Linked DNA regions of Homo sapiens: region 2 is linked to region 1. Evidence: fine-mapped expression QTL. Tissue or cell type: blood mononuclear cells. Region 1 holds a variant in brackets; the other region holds the start of a gene. All regions are shown on one strand. Distances are between the middles of the regions. Region 1 overlaps DNM3 (dynamin 3). Region 2 holds the start of PIGC (phosphatidylinositol glycan anchor biosynthesis class C).

Region 1 (5,383 bases):
TTATCGTACGTGTTTGCAGTTTTCACAATGAACAGAGACTATAGGAAAATTGCCAACCCTGTTATGCCATTTAAAAATCACTTGTGATCATTGAAATTTCTCATTTATCAATTGGCACAGACTAAATAGGACTAAAGAACACTCCGTCCCAATGAATGACATTTTGGCAGCTATTGGGAGAATTTGAGGGCTTTGAAACAAAAGAGCTATGGAGGATTGTAGCAAGCTGTGTGTTCTATAGGTCATGAGAGTTCCATGGACTAAAGTCTTGCCTTCTCCATTATCAAAAGAATTCTTGAAAACCACTGACTTAGAGAATTTTATCCATCTGCCTTCTGAACTGTGATCCTTATACTCAATTTTACCAATTTTCATATAGGCTGAATAAATCTGGCTGATTGATCTGCAATTGTTTTTTTAAAAACTACACATAGAAATTTTAATATAGGCATGATTGTTGTATACAGTCACTAATCATATATAAGATAGATCATTGTACATCTGAATAATACGTGTTGACAATTATAAGTGGATTTTCAGGCTTAATTGTGAAACAATATAGCTAATAAATAATGGACCTAGAAACACACATAGTTGGAGCTGTAGTCTCACCTTCATATACTTACAGTCAAAATATACACAATGAATAGAATCAGAGATTTTTAAGGTATAAAGTACTAAGGTTTTTTTCCCCCTCAAAATCAGAAATATAAAGAGGAAAGAAAATTAGCCCATATATAAAGTTAATTTTTAAAAAATTCAATTCAGAGAATTAAAATATTTATATACTCCATGAAGGAATATCTGACTGTATATGAACCATAAAAACAGATGTGACTTCTACCCATCCCTGAAGCCTGAGCCACCTTGCCAACTGATTATGGCACTTACGTTTTATTTTAATCTTCAAGTTGTTAAGCGTAATGAAGAGAAGAGAAGAAGGGGGATCTTAAGCTAGTACACAGAGGGTGGTACAGCAAGAATAGGCAGGAGATTTGCAGTCAGAAGACCTGGGTTACTGAAGGTCTTGGGCAACTCATTTAACTCTGAGACGGGAGTTCTTTATCTATGAAACAGGGAGAACTCAATAAGGTTGTTCCCCAGATCATATGACATGAGGTATTTGAAAGAGTTTGATACACTGTAAAGACTACAGTTGTTACCACTGTTATCATTTTGGTCCTAAGCAAAGAGGATATATACACACTCTCAATCCAATTTTTTTTCTCTAAATTCAATAGACTTGGCTTATAAATTATTTGGAATGGTGCTAAATTTCTAGTAATAGCAGTACTAGCAATAGCCAACATTTATTGTGCCCTCAATATTACTAGGCATTGCCCTAAGAACTTTGTATATACATTTTTGTTTAAAGCTCACAACAAATAGGTTGTTATCCACATTTTACAGATGAGGCAGTGAGGTTAAACAGCTTGCCCAAGGCTGCTCAGCCAGTCCCTAGTGGAGCTGGACTTTAATCCCATGCAGTCTGCTTCCAAAGCCATTTCCTGACCATGACCCCAGGGTTTTTCAGCCTCATCAGTACTGACGTTTTTGTTGTGGAGGGCTGTCCTGTGTATTGTAAGATGTTTAGCAGCATCCCTCCCCTCTACCCTCTAGATTTCAGTTGCAGTCCCCAGTTGTGACCACTAAAAATATCTGTAGACACTCCCAATGTCCCTTAGGGGAGTAAAATTCCTCTCCACGTGAGAACCACTGCACTGTAGTATTCAAAAGAATTCCCTTCCATGTAAAACCATGAATTTCCGCATTGAGCCTTGCTACAAGCAAGATCCAATTTATTATTTTAGAAAACCTCAAATTGACTAGGAAAGTGTCTGCCATTGTACCAGGAAGGTATTGAGGCCATTGGAAGAGGAAGAGTTGAGAGTGGGAAGGCTGGAGTGCCATGCAGGAGCTACTTTTGTCTGTCTAGCTGTGAGAAAAAACCAGAGCAAACTGGTGGTGCCTGTCCTGGGGAATGAACATGCATGTTCTGCCTGCTTGCTTGACTGCTTTACCTGTGGGTTTCAGATGAGCTAGCTTGCCAGTACCCTTCAGAAAAATCAACTTTTGAATGCTAAGCTGACTTGTTAAGCAGGGTGGAGTTGCCGTTAGTATTTTCCAGCTCGCACGAACAAGGCAGCCGGATGAGAATGAGTAGCCCGAGCTGGATGGCCGGCACATGGGCAGCAGGGCTTAATGAGACTACATTAGGGAATTTATAGGATGACAGTTGCCTTATTTGAAATTTCTAGAATACTCTCAAGTTAGAACCAGACTTTACTTGATCTGGCCATGCAAAGAGTCCCAAATTTAAAACAGAAATGAAAGTACAGGGTAAAAGAGGAAAGTTTGTTGTTTTGTGCTGAGCCTTCAAGTTTCTGTGCTGGTTCAGCGCTTTGGGAGGGAAATCCCGGGGAAGGGGGCTGGGGGAGGGGTGGTCACCTGAGAGAGGGCAAGAAAGACTCTGTCAGGATCCCCATGCCTGTTAAATCCAGCTTTAGATGGAGAGTTCTGACCACATAAAGTCTGTTTTTAATAAAAGCCAGAGCAGGAATCCTACCAAATACAAGCCAGAAATGGGGTTTAAGATTTCAAAAAAAGAAAGGAAGAGAGAACGAGAGAAAGAAAGAAATTGAGAGAA[G/A]CGCTTGTTGAAACTTCACCTTATTCTGTTTGTTTAATATATTCTATTTCCCCTCTGTGCTTTGCCTCCATTTTCTCTATCAAAAACTTAGAAAGTTGAAATGCCATTATCCATCATCTCTGGGAAAACAACCCTTTGTTTTCAGAGAAGGAAGTTTGATTTTTTTTTTCAAGTTTTTTACTTTCTTAAGGGTCCTTTCTCCTCTTGTATCTGAAACCAGAAACCTATAACATGACAAGACAGCACAAAAGGTGTCCCGCCAGCTCCCTGTTGGGCTTTAATATTACAAAGGCAATAACTGAACTTTTAGAGACAAGAGATTCTGCCATTCAGCATGGGCTTGTGCATAGTTTTCTTCTGGATAATTCACGACTTCATTAGCAAGTTATGATCTTGACTTTTAAGAGCATATATACTTTTATGTTAACGCCATTCAAAGGTAATCAAAGCACACTTGCAATTGTACAGAAACCATGAGTGTTCTGCTTTTAAAAAATATATATTATTGTATCTTTCCATTCCAATATAAAAGGAGAGGAAGGAGAGAGGTGGTGGAGTCATTTTTGGCCCAGCTTTTCTCAGCTGCTCAAGCTGTTCTGGTTTATGTGCATGGAGCCTTTCAGTTAGGGAGCTGGAAATATTGCAAACTACATGCCTGTTTTAATTAATTCCACTTGAACTAGAGAAGCATCTCTATCCCAAAGAGATTCACTAGTATGTATGCTTCTGTCATTGGTAACTTGAGTATACACAAATCAGTGATTTGTGGAACATTTTCTATTGCCAGAATATCTGGATTGTCACCTCCCCTCTCACCTCCACTCAACTTCTCTGAAGGGGCTAAATGCTGTTTGAAAATCCAATCCAGTGTGTATTTATTTACTTAACAAGATGATCTTAAACAGACATCACCACCTCTTTAGGGTTCCTATTCTCTTAATTGAAGATCCTGATCTTCATCAGACATTAACTTTAGAGCTGATGTAACTATTTTCAGATATAGCTTCTTAAAATTAGTTAATTGGGAATCACAGTCTTTGACATTAACGGAACAAATTCACTGAATCCGAGTGTGTTTTTCCTGGCAATAATGAACTCTGGCATTATTTCACTCATTTGTCTTCTTCCCTTTCCTTGGACTAAGCTATTTTGCAATAGTCAAAAGGGGATAAGGGTGGGAGGAAGGGTCTCCAACCAAGCAAGAAGAAACTTTTTTTTTTAACCTCATCACTCAATATTCAAGTACTTTTTTTGACCACCCTTGTTCACCAAGTATGATGGTTTCTCTTTAAAAAGACAAAACTGAATCATTCGAAAGGATTTGGGTTTTACTCCAGCTCATCAAAATGACATAAACACAATATGGAAACCAAGAAATGCTCCCTTGAAGGAGTCTCTGGTGAGCCCCTTAGTGAAGCTGATGTCCCACCCTGCAAGGGCAGTCCCAGAGTAGCATCAAGATTATTCCAGAGTGTCTCACTCATGCCCATCCCATGACTTAGGTGGCTTCCTTGACTTATGTGGCACACTTTAAGAGTTTCATTGTAATCCCACATTTTCAGTAATTTATTACAAATCGACCATGCCAAAAGATTTATTAATCCTTCTACATAGGCAATCAATGCATGCATATTCTTTTCTTTACAAAGACAAAAGCCATTTAATCCTCCTTATAATTTAGTTTAATTCTGTTTCAAATGTTTGACCTTGATGGCCTGCAGTGCTCTATCTCTTTTATGTATTTTACATATTGTTATAACTGACAATTAATATAAAGTCCCTTTCACTTAGGGATACGATCTCCTTGTTTCGGTTTTGTAGCCAGTCCCCCAAATTTTGCATGAGGACAAATTCACGATTCTTATGAGTGTGTCTTTGAATCCCTTACGTCAAGGTTTGGTGCCATGAAGGATGAAGCTGCTGAGCCCTGAAGTCGTGGGCTAAGGGTACACGGACAATTAAGCAACTTAAGTGACTAGCCTGTGTCTGATTCCCCTGCAGTCATGTACTGAAAACCTCCTGACTTACTGTCTTTTCAACAGCCCTCTAAAAGTCTGACTTCTTTTAGCAGCTGAATGTCATTTGGACAAATGAGGAACTCATCTTGTGACCTCTGATGTCAGCCAGGAGCTTTCTATTTTTCTCACCATCCTCCCCCTTTAAAAAACAAATACATAAATTTATCATTGGGCATTGTGATTTTTCATGGAACAGTTTTTATTTTTAGCAACTGGCTTTCAAAGCAAGGAAAGATGTTTTTTTAAGCATAATTACTAAGAATAGAAACAACTTTGAGGTGTTCTTTTTGATTCTTAATATTTAAGGTGTCTCATGACATTTGAAGTCTCTAAATGTCATTAATCATTTGTTGCAGGTTTAATATGAGTTGTCATGATGCTTAATATACTTTAATGAAAATAGAATTTTGGCCACATGCTGTTCATTAAAGAAAATATCCAATTTAATATAAGTCCCTCAATTAAAAATCCCATCAAAAGCCTTGTTCCAATTTCACCATGATTCTGGCTATAACACAATTATTTCATTGGAGTGAATCAATGGTTAATGTCAAAGTTTTTAATTCTTCAAGTCTTGGTTTCAATCTGGTTTAAGTGAAAGTAAAATTAGTTTGGTGGTTTCCTTCTTGAGTCTTGCAAACTTGAGTCTACCTTACACAAACATCTCCATCCTGCCACGGTTCGGATGACTGGCAGTCTGTTTAGGCGAGGCCCAGAA
Region 2 (5,383 bases), 53 kb after region 1:
GAATGAGGTAGAATGGACACAGACATGAGATAGACATCAGCAGAAGGGCAAAGAGTACGGCTCCCACAGCACTAATGGACAGTAGGCCTCCCACGGCTGAAAATGCAAAAAGCAGTGTGACCCCCACATAGCTCCGGGGAGTACATGCCTTTAGTTTCTTCTGCAACATGGGCCACAGGGCAAAAATCTGAATGGCAAATGTCACCATGATGAAGGCATGCAGGGACCGGGGAAGACGTGATGCCAAGCATACAGAAGCAAAGATGGCCATGTTCAAGGATAGTGTGCTGGATACAATGGCAGCATTGGCACCATAGTCAAAAAAGATGAGATGGCCTAACAGCATGAAGACTGACATGGCATAGATGGTGTCAGTGCTGACAGACTCTGTAAGGGTCTTCAGCACTGGTGAAAACCCATAAGTGAAAGTAATGAAGACTAGGGCACTCTTCAGGTCAGCCCACCGGGTCTGCCCACTCTTCTTCCGCCCTTCACCTCCATCAATGAGATCAAACAAAACATACCCAATCAGTGAAGAAGCCAGACCAGTCCCTAAAAGCCAATGGGGGGCCAGAAGACCCTCATCCATATACCACCAGATAACCACAAAAACACAAACACTGCACAGCTGCTGGATCACCACACTGGACTCAAATACCACAGCCCAATATTGGTATTTCCGAGCATGGATGTTTTTCCGGAGCTCTTCCAGGAATCGCCGGTCCACATAGTTATCAGGAAAGGGCTGTCGCTCATACAAGACCTTCTGCCACTTGACCTCCTTGGTGTTAGTCACAGGTTGAGCATACATTATCCTTTCATTCAAACTCAGGCCAGTTTAATCATCGCCCTCACAGAAGTCCAGGTGGTTCTTGTTCTTTATGAAGTTTTGAAATGAGACCTCCCTGGAAATTCCATGCTGTGTTGATGTTCTACCAACCTTTCCTTGTTTTCAAAGGCAGGGGCTAGGCCTACAATAGATGAATTTGTCTCTGAGGCAGGACAACACAGCCAAGTTCCTAGAAAAAGAGAGACTGTGAACCTACGAAAGTTGTGAAAGGTCAAGAGTAGTACTGAGATAAAGTCAAATCAACTCAGTTTACTAAAAGTCTGAGAAAAATGTATGTGGTAGTCACCTTATGGGACATTAAAACTGCATTTCAGATTTGAAAATTATAATTCCTTGAATAATAATAGACATCTGTTAGCTATCGCTTATTGAGTACCTACTATGTGCTAAGTGCCTTATGTATCTTCTTTCACTTAATCCTCACCACCTTGTAAGTTAGTATTAGTCCTGCTTTGGTAAAAAAGCTGAGATTCAAGATGCTTAAGTAACTTTGCCCTAAGGTAACAGAGCAGAGCCAGGATTCAAACCAAAGTCTTATCCCAAAGCCTGTGTCTCACATTGTATCTCCCTCTAAAGCAGTTCTTAACTCAGTGGTTCACATATCCCTTAGGTATATCACATTGCATGCTTATATCTGGATTTGTGTAAATTTATAGGGATAATATCCATAGTTTTTATTGGTTCTCAAAGGCATGTTATTTGTATTTTTTAAGTTACCAATCCAAAGACAATAGTAAGCTGCACCATACAGAAAGGTATGAGCTCTATAGTTTAACCAAAATCAAAGCCTCAAAGAAACTAGACTCTTCTTCCATTAGCTGAGCTTAGCATCCTTTAAAGAGCTATCAATCTACTCAAAACAAGGAAACTCTTGAGAGGATCGAAGAAGATAATCATTCCTTTTTCACAATGAGAAAACTAAGAGTCAGAAACACCACAGCCATCCGGCAAATTTGAGAAAAAAAAAATTCATATTGCCCGACTTTATTTCTTCCATGATAGACCACAACAAATATTGCTTGGCAAGCCAGACACCGTTACCCCCTCTGCAGCAGGGATCCCAGCCCGGGAATCTTAAGGCCGCCGCCGGGGTTGGAGGGTCTGCGACGCCCAAAAGGGCAGCGCCCGCCCGCAGAGTGGGGCTGGGAGGGGACGGGGTAGGGTAGGGTGACCCCAGGGTGCGCCTTCACTCTTCTGGCACCCCATTTGGCTTTTTGGGTGGGCCTCCCACTTCCGCCGCCGCCCCTCACTCAGCCTTGGGTCTGCGGGAGGCAGCAGAGGAAAAGGAGCCCCGGAAACACTGACCGTTACACGGAACCCACCTACCCGAGAGTTCCTAGGGTTGCGCAGCTGGGGGACGGCGGCACCCAGCCTTTTTCCCGCTTCGGGGCGCCGGGGCTGCGACTGTGGCCAAGCACTTCCGGGTCCGCCGCAATCTCCTTAGCGAGGGCACCCTTCCCCGGCTGGAACCATCGCGACGTGACTGCTGCCCCCTCCTGGCTGCTCGAAGGACCTCCGGTCTCCTCTCCTGGAGACTGGCCCAAACCCGAATGCTCTGAGCCTAGGAAGGCAAATCCCCAGCAATCCCCTATTGAAAGATGGGATGTGCCATCTGAAGGACTGGGTAAGGCAAGAGAGGACAAGGAAAGAGGCTGGGCCAGTAGGTGAGAGATAATGGCCGCTTTTGTTGCGCTCCTTTATTAAGTCAGGCCCTCAGCTGGGACTTCCCGTGCATCCATGCGTTCATTCCACAGATACTGATTGAATGCCTGCATGTAACAAGCCATGCTTGGGGTGCTCATGATACAGCCGTGAATGAAACACACAAAAATTGCTGCTCTCATGAAACTCTCTTTTTTGGTGCATTGACCTTTACACTGATTATATCATCTCCCCCCTCAAAGAGGACAAATCTAAGGCTCAGATAAGTTGTATTTGTCCAAAGACAGGCACCTGGGAAGTAGATGAACAGAGATCAATATCCAGTTGTCTATAGCTTCAAAGCTTGGTTTTTTTCCTCTTTACCTCCTAAAAGAAGTGAGGACAAGATTGCTAATTAAACTGAGTTCATGGAAATATTAAAGGATATATAAACAGAAGGAAGTAATAAAGAAACAAAGGGATGTAGTAAAACACAGGATACAGTGGAAATAAAAGTCAGAAAACATGACCCATTTACTAGCTCAGTGACTCAAGGCAAATCACACTACCTGAGCTTTGATTTCTTCATCAGTAAAATGGAGATGACATTATTTGCACTTGGCTACTTTATAGGATGGTTAAAGAGTTAAATATAAAAATGGTTTGTAAAGTGTTCACTATATGGCTGCTATTAGCTGACTTTGGCCATCGTAATGATAGCAATGTTTAAGTGTGATATATTCTGTAAAATGTTCTCTATTTCCCTCTAGGCTTCTGTTCCAAAATTTGACAAGATTCCTTGGCTTAGTGAGGCCAGCCTTGTAAACAAGCCATTAGTGCTCAGCCTTCCCAGAAGGTAACCTCTCAGCCACCGAGGGCAAAAGTTTTACGAAACATCTCACAGAAGATGATTTCTTCTTAAGGGATGGGGACAATTATCAGAGGGCACATTTGATCCATTGAGAAACTCAAGTCAAGTGCTTTAAAAATAGAAATAATCCGGGTTTCTCAGAAAAAAATGATCACTGAGTATAGGCCTGGCTAGAGGAGATGAGATCTCAAAATTTTTCCCTCTCCACCACTACCACTCAACAGTATAAGATAATTTTTCCCCTAGACACTGTCTCTCAAAACACTTCCATCCTCTTTCTCACCCCACATTTTCTCCACTGCTGTAGTCTGAAATTTTCACATTTTTACCATCAAAAGTCTAGAACAGTAAGTTCCCATCTTTATAGAATAGTAACTCTGTATGTAACTTTGAGGCACCCTCCTACATTCCTGTTAGTCCTACTCCTTCCAAACAAACTACTATATGACACATAAATCTATTTTTCAAAATTGCAGGAATTACATATCTAGGGAGCATTTCAACTGTCTCTTGAAATAATTGGGTTACCGTGTCCCTTCTCCATTTTTGATGAAATGGTTCCTAAGTGTAGTGATAAACCCCACTCTGGGAAGGGGACATGGACAGAAGGGTAGGTGTGAGGTAGTGTTGGGGTGAATGAGAGAAACCAGAAAGAGGGCAGAGAGAAAGAGAAAGGGCAGGCATAGAGGCCATTCCAAAGGCACACGACAGACTAAAAAGGAATGACTCCTTGGCATTCGAAACAGCTCGTTAGAAAAGCCAGACTCCCCAAAAAGAGTTTCTCCTCCTGTTGATAACTACCATGTACCCTCCTGCCCATGGATAAGTGACTTCATAAGCAAATTCCCATCACTGTCTCCACATCCCCACTTTAGTAACATGTACCTTTGCTTTGTCTACTGTACATTAAAAAAAAATCTCATTCTCAGTAAATAGGTAGACGGTTTTAGTATTTTCAGAACAAAATTCACAAGTGCTTTCAAGTGCTCGTTATTCAGTTGTGTTATTTTTACATAATTTTGAATATAACGAAAGCAGATTATCAGAGGTTCAATAAACTCAAAGGCCTATTTAAGAAACAAAAGTACTAAGTGATAGAGTGCTTATTAAGAGTTGTTAACACTGCATGGATCAGCACGAGTAAGGACAGTCTAGCATATTTTAATTGAGGGTGGGACACAAACTCACAGGCCCATGACAGTCAGATGAGGGGCATAATGAGTAAAGCTGGCCAAACAGGACTGCAATGAATGGGAAATCACCTCCCCGCTTCAGCCCACCCCCACGCCAGCAGTGTTACCTGCAGGCATGTGAGTCCAGAGGCCAGATCCACTGGGTCTTCTAACAGTACTAGAAATCTGGATGTTTTATGTGAAATTGCTAGTGTTTGATCTAATAGGGTAATATCCCACCATCCCATACTACCCCCATGCCCATTAGACCTGCCCCAGCAGCGAAGAGCAAAGTATCCTTGTGCATGGCTCTCTTGCCCCCAGCTCCCTTGGTCTCTAATTACACAAGCCTTTGGCAGAGGGTGGAGATCAGGGAGAAGGGTAGGCCTAGAATACAACTGGGCATCGGCAGCACCTGTTCACTTTCATAGCCAGGTCCTGGAGGGTCAGAGCAGACAGTCTGTTGACAGCCAACTGGAAAGGGAGTGGGCAGTTTTTCCTCCAGCCAGCCAAACCTAAGCTAGGCACAAGGAGAAATTACCTTAGGCAGGCAGTGAAGCTCTACTCATCGCTATTCTGGGAGGATTGGGGTAGCAATCTTAATTCTTGTTTAGAAAAATGTAATATACCTACCTCACAACAAAGGTGACCGAACAGCACCTTTGAGGTGCCCTGAGCTCTCAGGAGGACAAGACGGGAATGAAAAGTCTTTTGAAAGGATGGTTTAAGTATCAAAAGATCTTAAGGATTAAAAGCTCCTCATGTGGGCCAAAGCTCCGGGTTCCAAGCTGTTTATTTTTGGCAAAGCCCCTTACTGAGACTTTGGGAGAAAGTTCTCAATGTGCCTTA

What was found.
Region 2: PIGC starts here. The variant in region 1 is fine-mapped to the expression of PIGC in blood mononuclear cells (TOPMed, PIP 0.93).

Annotation. Positions count from the first base shown.
Region 1 is chr1:172,388,908-172,394,290 of GRCh38, forward strand. The region is part of intron 20 of DNM3 (dynamin 3); the gene reads left to right. It overlaps LOC102724528 (a long non-coding RNA gene), which reads right to left. Exons shown (of 3, transcript XR_001738294.3): 3 at 4,844-5,383. Among named protein-coding and RNA genes, the nearest start is that of C1orf105, 29 kb to the right of the region's middle. The variant G/A (reference allele first, on the strand shown) is at 2,648.
Region 2 is chr1:172,441,812-172,447,194 of GRCh38, forward strand. It overlaps PIGC (phosphatidylinositol glycan anchor biosynthesis class C), which reads right to left and starts at 2,258. Exons shown (of 2, transcript NM_153747.2): 1 at 2,177-2,258; 2 at 1-1,019. The coding sequence starts at 811. C1orf105 (chromosome 1 open reading frame 105) reads left to right here. Exons shown (of 7, transcript NM_139240.4): 2 at 3,262-3,347. RefSeq lists enhancers at 2,090-2,613, 2,337-2,646.